Regions from separate parts of the Homo sapiens genome. Here regions 2 and 3 are each linked to region 1. Evidence: fine-mapped expression QTL. A gene starts in region 1. Each other region holds a variant in brackets. All regions are shown on one strand. Distances are from middle to middle.

What was found. PIP is the estimated chance that this variant, and not a neighbour inherited with it, causes the effect.
Region 2: its variant is fine-mapped to the expression of CPQ in whole blood (TOPMed, PIP 0.97).
Region 3: its variant is fine-mapped to the expression of CPQ in subcutaneous fat (GTEx, PIP 0.96). The same link has a PIP of 0.9 or more in sun-exposed skin and tibial nerve.

What each region holds. Positions count from the first base shown.
Region 1 is chr8:96,642,489-96,647,718 of GRCh38, reverse strand. CPQ (carboxypeptidase Q) reads right to left here and starts at 2,477. Exons shown (of 8, transcript NM_016134.4): 1 at 2,317-2,477. RefSeq lists a silencer at 2,053-2,602.
Region 2 is chr8:96,936,028-96,941,257 of GRCh38, reverse strand. All of the region lies in intron 4 of CPQ (carboxypeptidase Q), which reads right to left. Among named protein-coding and RNA genes, the nearest start is that of CPQ, 290 kb to the right of the region's middle. The variant T/C (reference allele first, on the strand shown) is at 2,727.
Region 3 is chr8:97,052,298-97,057,527 of GRCh38, reverse strand. All of the region lies in intron 6 of CPQ (carboxypeptidase Q), which reads right to left. All of the region lies in intron 2 of LOC101927066 (a long non-coding RNA gene), which reads left to right. Among named protein-coding and RNA genes, the nearest start is that of TSPYL5, 220 kb to the left of the region's middle. The variant A/G (reference allele first, on the strand shown) is at 3,078.

The DNA.
Region 1 (5,230 bases):
TAATTCAGTCTTCATCATTTCACCCTGTGCTCTCATTCTAAATTCATTTACCCAAATAACCCAGGGTTTGTATATATGCTTGAACACACACAGAGACCACATTCTTCAAAGTCACACAGTTTTTCCTGGCAGGATTGTCTTGTTTCTGGGAGAAACCCTGTTTCCATCTGCTTGAGTTTTGAGTCCTAACTCTCCCATTTTCCATGTACTGTTTCTAGTTAAGAAGATCAAATAGGACTTACCATAGTATCTAGCTCTTAGATATATAGTGATGATTAAATGGGGCAATATAAGTAAAAAGGTTAAATATAACAGTGCCTGGTGTATGGTCAGTGCCCCATAAATATCAGCTTTGTAACATTCCATGCCTGTATGACACATGACCTCATTGGGAAAACAGTGTGAGAAAGTTGGCCCTTTTCACCAAGCAACATGTGTATTCCACTTCTCCTTATAAACTTGAATTCACTGAAGTAGGTAACATTAATTTCATTTTACTTAACACATTTGGAACTTTGTGTTTGTTAAATGTAGCATGCAAAAATATTTAAATATGTATGTATAATGACTTTTGAAGTGCCTTTAAAAAATCTCCAAGGTCCTTCCAGCTCCAAAATGTGATCTATGATAACTAATCTCAAATGCATGCGAAGAAATAGTGATGCAGTTCCCCAGATATACTGGGAATATATGGCATTGTCAGACTGGGTTGCACTGGAAAAAAGTCAGACCCAGGACCAGGAGCCTGTGACAATGTAGAAGAAAATCTTACCCTCCTTTCTCCCCACCAGCCTAGGGTTTATTACACTTATCTTGAGCTCCCAGGCTTTCTTGTTGCAGATGTGGAGAAGAAAGGAAATGAGCTGTAAACAGCAAAGAAGAGAGCAGAGACAAAATGCTATGGGAGGTGAAGTAAGCAGAACTCCATGAAATCATCTGTAATTTCACCTTCTAACCCTGATACAAAAGAATCCCAGAGGTTTAACTCAGGCAGGGTTCCTAGCTAAACATCTTCATTTTGGAGATTAAGAAATTAAAACCTAAAGAGATCAAGTGGCAAGTCCAAGGTCATCCAGCTCTTCTGGAACCTGGACCTGGCAAGTAAGAACGGCTGCAGTGACCAACTGTATTAAAGCTATGTGCTAAGCCTATTTGTTTACAAACAGATAAGCGTCTTTCTGGGCCTTATGTAGCCTTCTTCAGTCACCTGCAAATCAGCCAGCACCTGTCTCAGGAAAACAGACAAGATTCTTAACAACTCTGAATTCAAAAGAAAAGCCTGGTTTTACAAACAAGTCAGAGTCATATGGTTCTGCCTTCAGAGTCACCCTTATCTTTAAGAAATACATGAAATAATATTATAGTGACAATGATTCTTTAAACGTCCAAAGTAGAAGTGAACAAAACACAAGCAAGAAAAAACCTAGGCATATTTTGTTTTAAGCAAACACATATAGCCAAGTCCAACAAAAATGGAAATACCAGGGGGCGTTTCCAGAGACCATTTGAACAGCATAGAACTCTTTTTAAGTGGTCCCAATCAGAATGCCTCCATTTGCAAAAGTGCGACATTCACACAACTTTTTGGAAAGCTATCAAAAAACAGGAGTTGTAAGCCTGCGTCTCCACTGCTTCCACTTCATACATCTTTATTTTCACTCATGCACTGATTGATTCAGCTGTATCTCGTATGCACTCATTTATTCACTTACTCATTTGTTAATTCACTCAGTTCTACGGCATAGGTACTCATTCAATTACTTATTGAGTAGCTCTGAGTCCTAAGTCAGATGGGACTTTGCCCTCATGGAACTTCGATTCTAGGAGAGTCCAGTAGCAGAAACTAGACGCATCAAAAGCGAAAGTACACGGTAAAATGCGAAAGGAACCCCAAAAGAACTGCATAAGGCATATTGGAGGCTCAGGGGGACCAGGATTGTTTGCAGATGGGGGATGAAGGGGGCGGCTTGGGGCTGAGCCCTGGAGCTGAGGGGAAGTGAAACCGTGTTGGGAAGGACGGCTGAGGGCCGTGCTCGCTGCTGTCCCGCAGCACCCTCCACCACCCCCACGTCACAGCTTCCCCATTTCTAGGCTCGGTGACTCCACTGTCACCGAAGGGGCAGCCACAGGCTCCCAACCCGCCGCTCCCCAGCCAGGTCCTCCCGTCACGCCCCCGAATGAGCGATGCTGGAAGTCCGTCCCCCTCTGCCCCCGCCCCTGGCCTGCTCCAGCCTCAGCCCGCCCGACCCCCGCGGGTAGGAGCCAAGGCCTCGGCCCAGCCGCCCGCGGGCACTGCCAGTTCGGCTGCAAACACACCTGATAGGGCGGCTCTGACGGCGGCGACGGAGGCGGCTCCCAGGACTAAGCTCGCGGCCTAGCCTTACGGTGGCGGCGGCCACACCCCTGACTGGGCTGGGGCCCTCCGCGCCGCCCCGTGACTGCAGCCCTGCTTGCCGGCCAGGCCGCGGGGCCGAGAGGCGGGGCAAAGACCTGACTCGGGAAGCCGGGGCGGGCGCCGGGTTCGGGCTGGGGGCCACCTCCGGAACGCCTGGGGGGTTCTCACTCGCCCTCCAAGGGCGACCTCAGGGCCACAGATCGGCCGGAAGGCTTCTCAGCTTCTGGGCTGTGGCTCCTGTTAGAAAATTGAGTGTCGCCCTGGGTCCCGAGCCCCTAGGCCTGACTCCTTCGTGCAGGGGCGTCGCCTTCAGACTGGGTGGTGCGCAGGCCAGGGCCGCGTGCTTTTCAGAAGCGCAGCCTCAGGCGAGGCGGGCGGCAGGGGCCTGAGAAGGCTCATGGCTTGGCAGAAGGGTCCTGTGCTTCAGTGGGTGCCCGTGCAGGTGGAGAAGGACGGGGCTGCGAAGCTGAAAGGAAAACGTGAAAGGTTTTTGTGTGTCTCTGAGCCTGAGTAAAGGCCATGCTTTCTGAGCTGTCAAACGCCTCCCAAAGGGAAGAGATTATTAAACCGTTTTCCCACCCTGCCAGGTGTAGGATTGTTAGGCGGTGATGATGGAAGGCAGAGATGACCCGAACTGAGAGATCAGAAAAAGCGTTTTCTCTTTCGTTTGTGCCTGAATTATATGAGGGTGCCCAAGAAGAAAGGAGACTCATCTGATTACCCGGTGTGGCTTATCTCAACAAGTCACACGCATTCTGGTCACAGAGTATGTGCTCAGTGTTTTCAATGCTTTATGTTTTGATAAGTGCAAATTCCTTTGTTTAACGAAACTCTTATCAAATACAAACAGTTATCTTTGTGAAACACTGAGCAGTTCCAGTCTCTCCTCTTAACTAAAAAAACCAAACAGAACTTTTAATTAGAAAAGAAAAGAAAGAATAAGCACATGCCTACTGGGAAAAAAAAAATACCATAAAATGTGCAAAGTCCACTCACCTTCGGTTAACAGTCCCTCTAAACCTTACTAGTCCTGTTGCCCACTGAAACAAGTGTGAACTCTGAGGCATTGGAGGGTCCACATAAACATGGCCCTGGCCCACCTTTCCCGAATCATCTCTCGGATGCCATATCTAACCCCACTGAATTACTTTTTTCTCAAACTATCAAGGGTAAAAGACAAGTTTTTATTATTTCCAATCTGACATGGACCATTATTTCTGTAAAATACAAATCAAAACCTGCTAGCAAATAAGAAAAGAGACAAAAACTACAAGCCCAGTTTTTATTACAAGTGTACAATGAGTATGCCAAAAAGTATAAAATTAGTTTTTCAATTATTGGTTGTTGTTGTTGTTTTTATTTCTAAATGCTTACTCACAATTTCTATACTTACCTGTTCATGGAGCAGTAAAAAGCTGTTCACTGACTGGCGGTGGTTGGATTACCGTTTAAGTGGCACTGACTTGCTGTTCTTTAATTATGTCAAATGCTTTTCAACTTCTGGGCCTTTTCTCATGTTTAATGTGAACGAAGTTCTTTCCCACTCAAGTTTCAACTCGTAATAACAATAAAAGCTTCACATTTATTGAGTGCCTTGTGCTAAGATTTTTGATGCATTAACTGTGAATTCTTATTTGTCCTATGAGCTACCTATTATTATCATTATTATTTCCCCCCACTGTACAGATAAGGAGATGGAGGATTAGAGAGGTCAAGTCACAAAACCAGTGAGGTACAAAGTCAGCATTAAACTGAGCTGGCCTGATTCTGGAGCCCAAGCAATCAACCAACATGCTGGGCCCCTCTCTGTGAAACCTCCCCCATTTGCTTTCAAGTTGAAATTAATCACTCTTGCTTACACCTCTACTCTAACATTTTTTCCCGTTGGTTTTCATTCATGTCAGCTTCCCACGCTAGGCTTTAAGCTTCTGAGTACAGTGAATTTGTCTGCTCACACTAATCACAGGAAGCAGAGCTCATTCGCATCTTTGCATTACCACTATCTTTTATGCTTACTTCATGATATGTTTTAATTATTTATTCTTGTCAGCATCCTCTACTAAACCATACAATGTTCAGAGTTATCTTACCAAAGATGCTTTTATTTATTTAATTGAATAAGCATTTCTATAGCATGTATAATGAGCCAGGTACTATTCCAAGAATTTTAAAACCTCGCAAATAGACCTATAGATATTATTTTATCCCTCTTTAAACTGTGAGGAAACTAAGGCATAGAGAGGTTGCAGTAAGTTGCAGGACCAGAATTCCAAACCAAGCAACCTGCCTGGCTCCAGAATCTATTTCTGAGCCACCATGCTATGTTGATTTTCCACAATACCATGTGTTCTTCCTACTTAGAACACTTCACTGCAGGGAGATCAATCCATAATGGCCAATTAGAAGCCCCTGCCCGCAGCACTCAGGGAGGAATGAGAAGGGGCAAGTGAATTCAGTACCTTCAACTGAAATATCCAGGTTCTCTCATTGGGACTGACTAGGCAAACCACCGGCCCATGGAGAATGAAGAAAAGTTGGGCAGGGTGGGGAGCCCACCTCGGAGCAGCACAGAGCCAAAGGAACCTCCACCCTCAGCCAAGGGAAGTGGTGAGTGATTGTGCAACCCAGGAAACCATGCTTCTCCCATGAATCTTTGCAACCTGTGGATCAAGAGACCCCCTCATGACTCCACACCACCAGGGCCTTGAGTCTGATACACAGAGCTGTGTGTTGTCTTGACAGAGCAGCCACTCAGGCACATACAAAGAGGCCCAGAAGTTTTACATACTCTGGCCACAATCATCAGCAAGGCAGGAAATCCATCTGTAGGAAGGG
Region 2 (5,230 bases), 290 kb before region 1:
GTTCTCCCCTACCCCACTGAATCTGCTTTCTGATTTCAAAGTTATATAAGCCTAGCAGCAGCAGCAGCAGCAGCAGCACCAGGGCACTCCATGTAGTACCCACATTCCATCCAGCCAGTTACCAAGTGCCAGATATGCTTCTAAGGGAGAGGGCCGAAAGCAATTTTGTAAGCCCCTGTGTTTTCATTTATGTGAATTTCTCAGCTTTTCTAGGTCAGAGAAACACTGGGTGATTACAAGCTCTTACTTATATGGGAGGGTGAAAAAGCATGCTGGCTCATTTTAAGGAGCTGACACCAGTTCCCAAGATTTGGGGAAAGAAGATGAAGTGCTTGAATGAATCCAAAAGGTATTCTTTTTAAGTATAATTAATTGATAGAACGTTTAATGTCTCCTGAAGGCATCGATAAAGAGATCATATGAGGTACTCTGAGTATTAAATTACCAAAGAAGACTAACTCCAGTAATAAAAGATGGGCTAGTTGATAGAAATTCAACTCCATGTAGCTCTTCCTACACTACAATGAGTAAAAAGCTGAAAACATTTTAGAGTATTGATTTGTTCATTCATTTAGCAAATACTCAGTAGAACCTACTTTATCTTAAGAACTGAAGTGAACTCAAGAAATACAGAAGTCAAGTTTCCTTCTCTCACTCCAAAAGACATCTGTCCATTCCTCATCATCCCATTTGCAGGCTACACAGTAATAATTCATTTGTCTTCTCCACTGGGTTTTAGTGAATCAGTGAATGAATACATAAAAGAAGCAAAGAAAGAAAGAACAAAACTAAGGAAGGATGAAGAAAGAGAGGGAGAGCAAGATGGAGCACTATTCCTTTCAAGAGTACACACAATCCAGTTTGCTGTTAAAGTCAAATTTGGTAAAAAGAAATATTTGGAGAACTGATGGTTTTCTCTTTTTGTATGTGAGCTAACTTCTCCATATGGTAGCAATGTTAACCTTCAGTTTTATGAACCATGATTTGTATATGGATTTCTACTAGAATTACATTTATTTTAGAGTTGGAAAGAATTGAAAGGCCCATTTGGCAGATTTGTTTTAATGTATTAATTATTTTTAAATATAATTTATTAGTAGATGACATAAACTTAGGGAACAATGAGGCAAAAAAAATAGGGCAAGAAAGAGAAAATCATTTTTACAGAGAAAAGTAGAAAAATATTTATTATGATAACAGAGTCAGACTCTCATTAAGTTTTTGCTTGGTATCCCTGAAAAGAGTATTGATGGTAAAAAGTTAAGCCTTCTGCAAATACCATGCACTAAGGAGGAAAAGGAACAACCAGAATTCTTACATACTTCTAATGGGAATGTAAATTGGCATAATCCCATTGAAAACAATTTGGCATTACCTAGCAAAGCCAAGTATGTGTAAACCTCGTGACCCAGAAATTCCACTCCTAGGTATATACCCTAGAGCAACTCTTGTATGTATGTGCCAGGAGACACGGACAAAAATGTTCATAAGCAGCACTGTTTGAAACAGCAAAAACTGGAAATGACCCAAAAGTCCATCAACAGTAGAATGGAGAGGTGAATTGCGGCATATTCACACAATGGAGTGTTATAAGCTATGAAAATAAATGAAGCACAGCTGCACACTGCAATATGAATGCTATGTTAAAAAAGCAAATTGTAAAAGACTATGTACAACTAAAACGGCAATTTTATAAAGCTTTTTAAAAAGTAACTATATAATATATTGTTTCAACATACTCATAATATGGAAAAACTATTTTTAAAAAGTATAAGAGAATTAACACAAAAAACTTCAGACTAGCATTGGCGGGGTGAGGGGACACAGGAAGACTGTATAGCAGGGGTCCCCAACCCCCAGCTAGCATACTGGTACCAGTCTGTGGCCTGTTAGGAATATGGCCGCACAACAGGAAGTGAGCATTACTGCCTGAGCTCTGCCTCCTGTCAGTTAGATTAGTGGCAGCATTAGATTCTCATAGAAACCCAAACCCTATTGTGAACTGCACATGCATGCTCCTTAGGTAATTCTAACTAATGCCTGATTGCCTGATGATCTGAGGTCAAGTAGTTTGATTGACTAAGGTCGATGGTATTAGTGATCTTAGGTTGAGAGATAAATTTACAGATGACTGTTTTATTGCTAGGCTTCATAACTCACATAGGTGGTACATATTCTGTTGTATATACCAACTATTACATATACATAATTTTAAAAAGTTCAGATACCTTGTATGACGAAATACTAAGCAGCCAATGAATAAAATAATTAAATTAGATCCATACATACTGATGCAAAAAGGCTTCAAGACAAATTGTGTTAACAAAAAGTCCCAGAATCGTACTACAGCACAATCTCATTTCTGTAACAAGGAAGCACAGAAAGTAAAAGCTCCTAAAACTATATGCTATGTATGTATTTGTACTGGAGACCTTCTGTTTGCCCCTCTGATCCACTCTCCACCTTTCTCCACTCAGCTCTCTGGCTAAGGGGGCTGACCTATATGGACTACATCAATAGGTTTTCTTGTTCCCTTGGCTTCCCATAGGGTTCAGTCAATGGGGGCGCTTAGAAGCAGAGAGGAAGGAGTGCATTTATTCCCAGCCCCTTTCCTGTGGTTGCTAAGAACTGGCTGCATCCCTCCATCACAGGTCTCAGTGCCCATTAGAGGGTCCTTTCTGCAGCACCCTTTCTGTGTCCAGGTTTCCATGACCACTTCCTCTCTG[T/C]GCCCCTTCAGATTTAGGGTTGATAATCATGATCCCCTGTGCTTTCCCTATACCCTCTCTACATCATATAAATAGTCCCTTTATTAAACTAAACCTCAATTATCCTAATTTGGTTTTGTTGCTGTTGTTGTTTAGAGACCAGGGTCCTGCTCTGTCACCTAGACTGGAGTGTAATGGCACCATGCTAGTTCATTGCAGCCTCAAACTCCTAGCCTCAAGCGATTCTTCCACCTTGGCCTTCCAAAGTGCTGGAATTACAGGTATAAGCCACCACACCCGGTCTAAATTATTCTAATTTGAATGTACCATCTGTTTCCTACTGGAATCTCAACTGATACAATTATATATGGATATGCAAGCATAGAAAATGGACTAAAAAGATACACAAGAGAAGGTTATCAGTTGTTAACGCTGGTGAAAGAAGCTAGAATTTAAAGAAGGAAAATATTAATGTTTTGGCCTTTACATTTCTGTATTATATAACTAACTTATTTCTAAGAGGAAAGTGTCATGTAATTTTTTGGGCAAAACAAAATTTTAAGAGTTCCAAAAAAATAATAATTTTTAACAATGCACAATCTGGGTAGTTTAAACAACAAACCAACTTCCTTTTATCTCAACATTCCCTGTGCCTAGCACAGTGCCCGACTAGCACAGCATGATAGGAGCGTCTAAGGAATGCAGACACTGTAATCCTGTGAATATTAAACCTAAAAGATATCTTAGAAGCAAGCTTAGCTTCTGTAAGGTTTAGTAATAAGAGGGAAGGGAGAAACACCTCTAGAGTCGCTCGACAGAGGCTTCCTAAAAAACATGGCAATTGACTGCGGGTATAGGCAACAACTGGACTGTCGGCTGGATCCTGGACTGCACTGTGCATACAAAGCTCACGTCCCAAGCCCTGTGCAGGCTGAGCTGTGTCATGGTCTCCAGACACTAGAATTTCACTTGACCATGTTCATACAAGTGTCTCTCCTAAGGTCTAAGGTCTGGCAGACTTCCAGTACTACTATCTCCTCTCTTGCTCCCCAGGGCCTGGAGGCGTTTCTTGATTATGAACTCAAGGCAAAATCCTTTGGCTACCATGCTATGACTACTGGACTGGACTCTATCTGAGCACCTGAAGCTGGGGGTGGCCACCGACACCTGCCTTACCCCAGCAGGGAGATTAAATTCAGGTCCAGGCTCCTCCCATCTGGCCCACTCAGCCATAGAAAACTAGCTCTGGCTAACTCAACTTGTCCTTCAAAACTCAGATTAGATGGCACTTCCCCTGACAAGGCTTTCCTGATTCCCTGAGTTTAAGTGCTCTCCTTAAATGACCCAAAGGCACTGTGTACTTCCTCTATCATAATATTTATTATACTATATTGAAATTGCCCATTTACTTGTGTGTAACCTCTCAAAAAACTGTAAGCTTTTTGAGGGCAAGACTAAGCCTTATGCATCTCTCAGTCATAAGAGACAATGACATAGAGTAGGAGTCATTAAATACTGGAAAGAAAAAGGGAGGAAGGAAAGGAGGGAATACCCAGAGAGGGAGGAGAGAGGGAGGAAGGAAGGAAGGAAGGAAAGATATCACATGCTGCTAAATCCATACATATGACAATACAAAATAAATGACCCTGTTTTATCTCCTCTAATGACTTTTAAAGCTATGGGAATGGAGAAATCAAGGTAAAGATAAAGTAATAGATACGTCATATGCTTACTGAGAACCTTCTCTCCACCAATAACTGCCAGGGTGATAAAATTGTGAGAAGAAAACAGACCATACTCCCTTCCCCAGTCTCATTCATATATGTGGAAAACTTTGTTTTTCAAACTTCTGATGTTTCTAAATGTTTTCATATACTTTCCAAATATCTCCCCAATATCTTTGGGATATTTAGATATTTCTGTATGTTTCCACTAATTGTTGACAGGCAAGAGATTTTGTGAGGTTGAGTTAATCAGCACTTGGTACAGCTATCAGAGACCTGTACTGGTTCCTCTGTGCTGAATTATCTCAAGAATTCTTTGCCAAAGTAATAAAAATTAATGTTTAATGTTGGCCTCTCTGTCTCTTTGATGGCCTTACTGAATTCTGTGGTATTTAAAGCATCACGGAAAGTAAATAATGAAGGTTTGATGTTGCTTTTTTAAACACAAATGAAACCATTAAGCAAATGAGTCAGAAATTATATAAAAGAACATTAGGAATTGAAACAGACCTGAAAACAATTTCTAAAAGATGTTAGGCAAAACTTCCATTCCATTCAGTCCAGAAATACTGCATTAGACCCACAGTAAACAATGCTACCTTTTAACTACCTGCCACCAATCTTACCTCCTTCCAATGTGGTCCCACTGTACCCCATTGCTGCACTGCATCTGGGTGAGGGAATGCAAGCACTTCATTCTTAACACACAAACCCTGAGTTTTCTCCAGGCACAAGAGAACTACACAAAAAGGCCACAAAAATGAGGGAAAGAATATACACAAAATTATAATTTCCTATCTG
Region 3 (5,230 bases), 410 kb before region 1:
ATGTGAGAGCGTGATTGATGTATTACTGAGCTCTCATTATCTAGGAAGAGAAAGTGCACCACCATCTCCTTGAAAAAAGCAATATTTTTTTCTAGCGCTCAGTTCTAAGGGGAGTAATTACATGGCTCTTTATATGAGGAACGCTGGACAAAATAATGGACACAGTCTCCAATAACAGTTTTACAAAAGATGCAGAAACACTTTTCCTAACACTATTTCTTACATATTGATCCTCAATTAAAGCCAAAAGCAAAATATTAAGTCACATTTCAGTAAATGTGTTTTTTCAGGAAGCAAAATGTATTTATTCAACAGTTATTTTGACGTAAACTTGAGTGATAGGGTGACTATACATTTTTGTTTGCCCTAGGAAGTCCCAGTTTACATCCCCTGTCTTGGTGTTAATTAACAGAGCCTCCTTTCTCTTGCAGACATTTCCTGGTTTTAATAATAAATCATATTTCCAACCTACATATGAGGGTATCTATATATGAAGATGACTAAGATAGGGTTGCTTTCCTAAAGGAGGGGAGAGTTTACCAGCAGAGGCAATAACTGGCTAATACATTAAATGTGATGAGTTCTATGAATATGTACAAAGAAGGGAAAGCAACTACTGAAAAATGTTGGCAAAAGCTTGATAAAAGAGGTGATGTTTGGCCTCAGCAAATACCCTAGACTGAAAGTGTTCCCATGAGAGCAGGGATCTTGTTAGTTCATCAGCATATTCTCAGAACCTAGCTAACGGGCACTTGAAAATACTTGTCAAATGAACAGATGACTTTATTCTAAGCATCCAACTAATGTCCAGAATGTAGCTTTCCAAGAGAGGATCAGAGCTTAGGCAATCTCTAAAAGGATAAATATAAGCATGTTCTGTAGAGTATCTCACTCTCAAACATTGGTTGTCCCTCCTAGAATTTTTGTAGGCATTAGCAAAAAATTTAAAGTGGAAACCATTAGTGAGCACCAAATTTCAAACCTGTGATGGAGCTGCACTTGACATTTGTTTACTCCTGGAAATGCATTCTTGCCTTGGCTTCTGGAACCTCAGACTCTTGGCTCTTTTTATGCTTTACTGGATGATCCTTCTCATTTTTCTTGGCTGGTTTTCTCATCCTCCTGACCAATAGAAATTGGGGTGCTCAGAAACAGACTAAAGGCCTCTTCTTTTCTCTATCACACTTACTGTGTTGGAACCCTTATTTAGGCTCATGGTTTTAAATAAATCTGTATGGTGATGAGTTCCAAATTCATATTTTCATGCATCTCCTGAATTCTACACTCATATCCCACAGCTACTCAGTACCTCCACTTAGATGTCTAATTGTGTATTAGTTTCCTATTGCTGCTGTCACAAATTACCACAAAGTCACTGACTTGAACAACACAATTTGTGTGTGTGTGTGTGTGTGTGTGTGTGTGTTTTGAGATAGGGTCTCACTCTGTCACCAAGCCTGGAGTGCAGTGGCATGATCTTGGCTCACTGCAGCTTTGGCTTCCCAGGCTCAAGCAATCCTCCCACCTCAGTCTCCTGAGTAGCTGGGACTACAGGTGCACCACCACGCCCAGCTAATTTTTTTGTGTTTTTATAGAGGAAAAGTCTCGCCAGGTTGCCCAGGCTGGTCTTGAACTTTTGGGCTCAGGTGATCCACCCACTTTGGCCTCCTAAAGTGCTAGGATTATAGGCATGAGCCACTGTGCCCGGCCTAAAAATTTATTCTCTAACAGTTCTGGAGGTTGTAAGTCTGAAATAAGCCTTACAGGGCTAAAATCAAGGTGCTGGTAGAGTTGGTTTCTTCTGGAACTCCTCTCTTGCTTGTACACCCAAAATGCAATCTATCAACAAATCTTGTTGGCTCTATTTTCAACATAGACTTACTCTCCGACAACTTCCCATCAGTTTCCCTGTTCTGACTCAGTCCAAGCGACCACCAGCCTTCACGTGGAGTACTGCAGTAGCATCCTGTCTCCGTTTCAGCCCTTGCCTTCCTTCAGCCTATTTAGAAAATGGGAGAAATGATCTTGGTCAGGGAGAATCTGAAGGTGAGAGTTGAGTTATTATTTATTTGGCTTTATGACTAAAGAAGCCTCAAGTTGTCTACAGAATATGGACTTGAACCTCAAAAGGCTGAAAAAGTTAGCCACAAAACCATCTCTATCCAATTACATCAGCTGACTTATTGAAGGAAAGGTGGTGCAACCAATGGCTTTAGGAACTGGTGGCAACAATAGCCCTGGAGAAAGGAGAGAGGGGAGTGAGACATCAGGAGGAGGAAGAAAACAGTTCAGAGAGACTGATTCCAGTGAGGATCATGATGATGTGATAAAGGAGGCTTGTGGAGAATCCAGACCCTAGGACCAGGGGATCTTCAAGATGAAGAGACAGAGCCTCTAAGGGCACTATATTCCCTGGAGAGCAAAACCAACAATCACAGCATTGAAAACATAGAAGCTGAGCTTCCATTGGACAGGGGGACAGGGGTGTTGTGAGAGGGTAACTATTATTTTCCATTCAGATGGAGCATTTATATGAAGAAAACTCCATGCCTATGGCTATCTGTAGACTTCCCCCCTGAACTCTATACTTAAAACATTTTGTTATTTCAATAACTTTAGGGGTACAGTGGTTTTTTGGTCACATGGATGCACTGTATAGCAGTGAAGCCTGGGATTTTAGTGCACCCGTAACCCGAATAGTATACATTATACCCAATAGGTAGTTTTTCATCCTTCATTCACCTGCCATTCTCCCCCTTTCTAAGTCTCCAGTGTCCATTATACCACCCTGTTTGTCTTTGCATACCCATGGCTTAGCTCCAACTTATAAGTGAGGACATGTGGTATTTGGTTTTCCATTCCTGAATTACTTCACTTAGAATAATGGCCTCCAGTTCCATCCAAGTTGCTGCAGAAGATATTATTTCACTCTTTTATGGCTGAGTGGTATTCCGTGGTATGTATGTAACACATTTTCTTTATCCACTTATCTATTGATGGACAGTTAGGTTTATTCCATATCTTTGCAATTGTGAACCATGCTGTGATAAATGTACATGTGCAGGTGTCTTTTTGAT[A/G]TAATGACTTCTTTTCCTTTGGGCAGATACCTAGTAGTGGGATTGCTGGATAGAATGGTAGATATACTTTTAGTTCTTTGAGGAATCTCCATACTGTTTTCCATAGAGGCTATACTAATTTACGTTCCCACCAGCAGTGTATGAGTTCCCTTTTCACCACATCCACGACAACATCTATTGTTTTCTGATTTTTTAATAATGGCCATTCTCCCAGGGGTAAGGTGGTATCTCATTGTGGTTTTTATTTGCATTTCCCTGATGATTAGTGATGTTGAACATTTTTTCATATGTTTGTTGGCCATTTGTATATCTTCTTTTGAGAAATGTCAATTCATTGAACTCTATACTTTTTACCAAACTGCCTACTTGACCTCTCCACATGAAAGTCTGATATCTCAAACTTAACAGGTTCAAACCCATACTCCTTATCTCCCCCTTTTCCCCCTGCCTAACTCCCCTCATTTCAGTTGTTTGGGCCCCAAACTGTCAGTTTATGCTTGACTCCTCTATTTCTCTCATACTCCATATGCAATCCACCATCAGATTCTGTTCGCTCCTTCCTTAAAATATTATCTGCAGCCTGACAACTTGCTATGCCTTCCACAGCTATCATCTTGTTCCAAACTACACTCTTGTCTTGCCTAGGCTATTATCTTTCTTCCATTCTGGTTCCCCTTTAGTCTGTTCTCAACCAAGCAGCCAGAATGATTATTTTAGAAAGTTGATTCAGATCATGTTTCTCCTATGCTCAAAAGCCTCCCATAGTTCCAACCTCACTCAGAGAAAATGGCCCATGGGGCTTGACTCTGCCTGGGCTTCTTTATATTGACTTCTTGTCCTACTGCTTTCCTTTCACTGCTCCATTTCAAGCACATTGGCTTCCTCCCTATCCCCTGAATGTCAAGCATGGCCTCCAGCAGCACCTTTGGAACAACTCTCCATCTTCGCTAGAATGCTCTCCTCCAGGTATCCACGTGGCTCTCCTCTTCATCCTTTCAGGTCTTAACCAAATATTACCACCTCCATAAAGTCTGCCTTGTTCCCCTCTATCAAAAATTAAAACAGCCCCCTCCTCATGTACTCTATCTCTGCTCCCTGTTTTATTTTTCTCCTTAGCAGTTATTTTCATCTAACATACAATTTTACTTATTTATCCAATTTATTATCAGTCTTGATTCACTAGAATGGAAGCAAGATGAGGGCAGACCTCAAAACACTGCCTGGCACTTAGTAGGCTCTCAGTAAACATGTGCTGACTGAATGAATAAATATATGCATGTATGTGTGTGTTTAAACACATATGTGTGTATATTTGTATATGTGAACCCATGCGAGCATGTAACTAGATGCCATTTTGGATGATGGTGGTGGTGGTGAAGATAATGATTATGTTGATGATGATGATGTGGTTACTCATGTTGGTGATAAAATAACATCAGTTTTTCAGAATCTGTTTTCCTTTTTAAAAAAATGTTCTCAAGAAAACCTACAGTTCCACAATTAAAGTTATTAGCTGAATCTTTACTGTGTATGTTATAAAGCACTTAATAATATACAAATGTTTACAACATCCATTATAAGTGCTAAAACAAATGCTTTCCAGGAGGATATATAGAGTGATAGTGATTTTTTAAGAAGTGGCCATAAATTATCAAAATACAAGTGAAACTTCAAAGGTCCCTTCAATAATGGAATAAGATGCTCTTATTTTGGAGGCTAGGTGGCAAAATCTCCTCCTTCTCAGGTGAAAACAGGGCTGAATATATTCTCAGTAGACTATATGTCATCATCATTTTGCTATCAAAGATGAGACTCCCATATGTTAGACTCACCAAAATAACTTGGCCATTACTCAGGAGGAGAAGGAGATGAGCAACAGTAACTGAACTGACAACATAGAATTTAAAAAATATTAAATATATAATATTTTAAAACTGTATCTTTGTTGTGCTAAAGTTAGCACATCATGAGGCTTATAATGCATGTGTAATCAGTAAGACTCAATTACAGTAACTAATAAATGTGTCCTGGGACTACTTAGATTTTTAACAATCGCTTCACATATTTTGTAAGTTTTAAAATATTCAGGCAAGATGAGGAAAATAATAAACAGATGAGGCAATTTAGCTTTGAGAAGAGTTAACATAATTTAA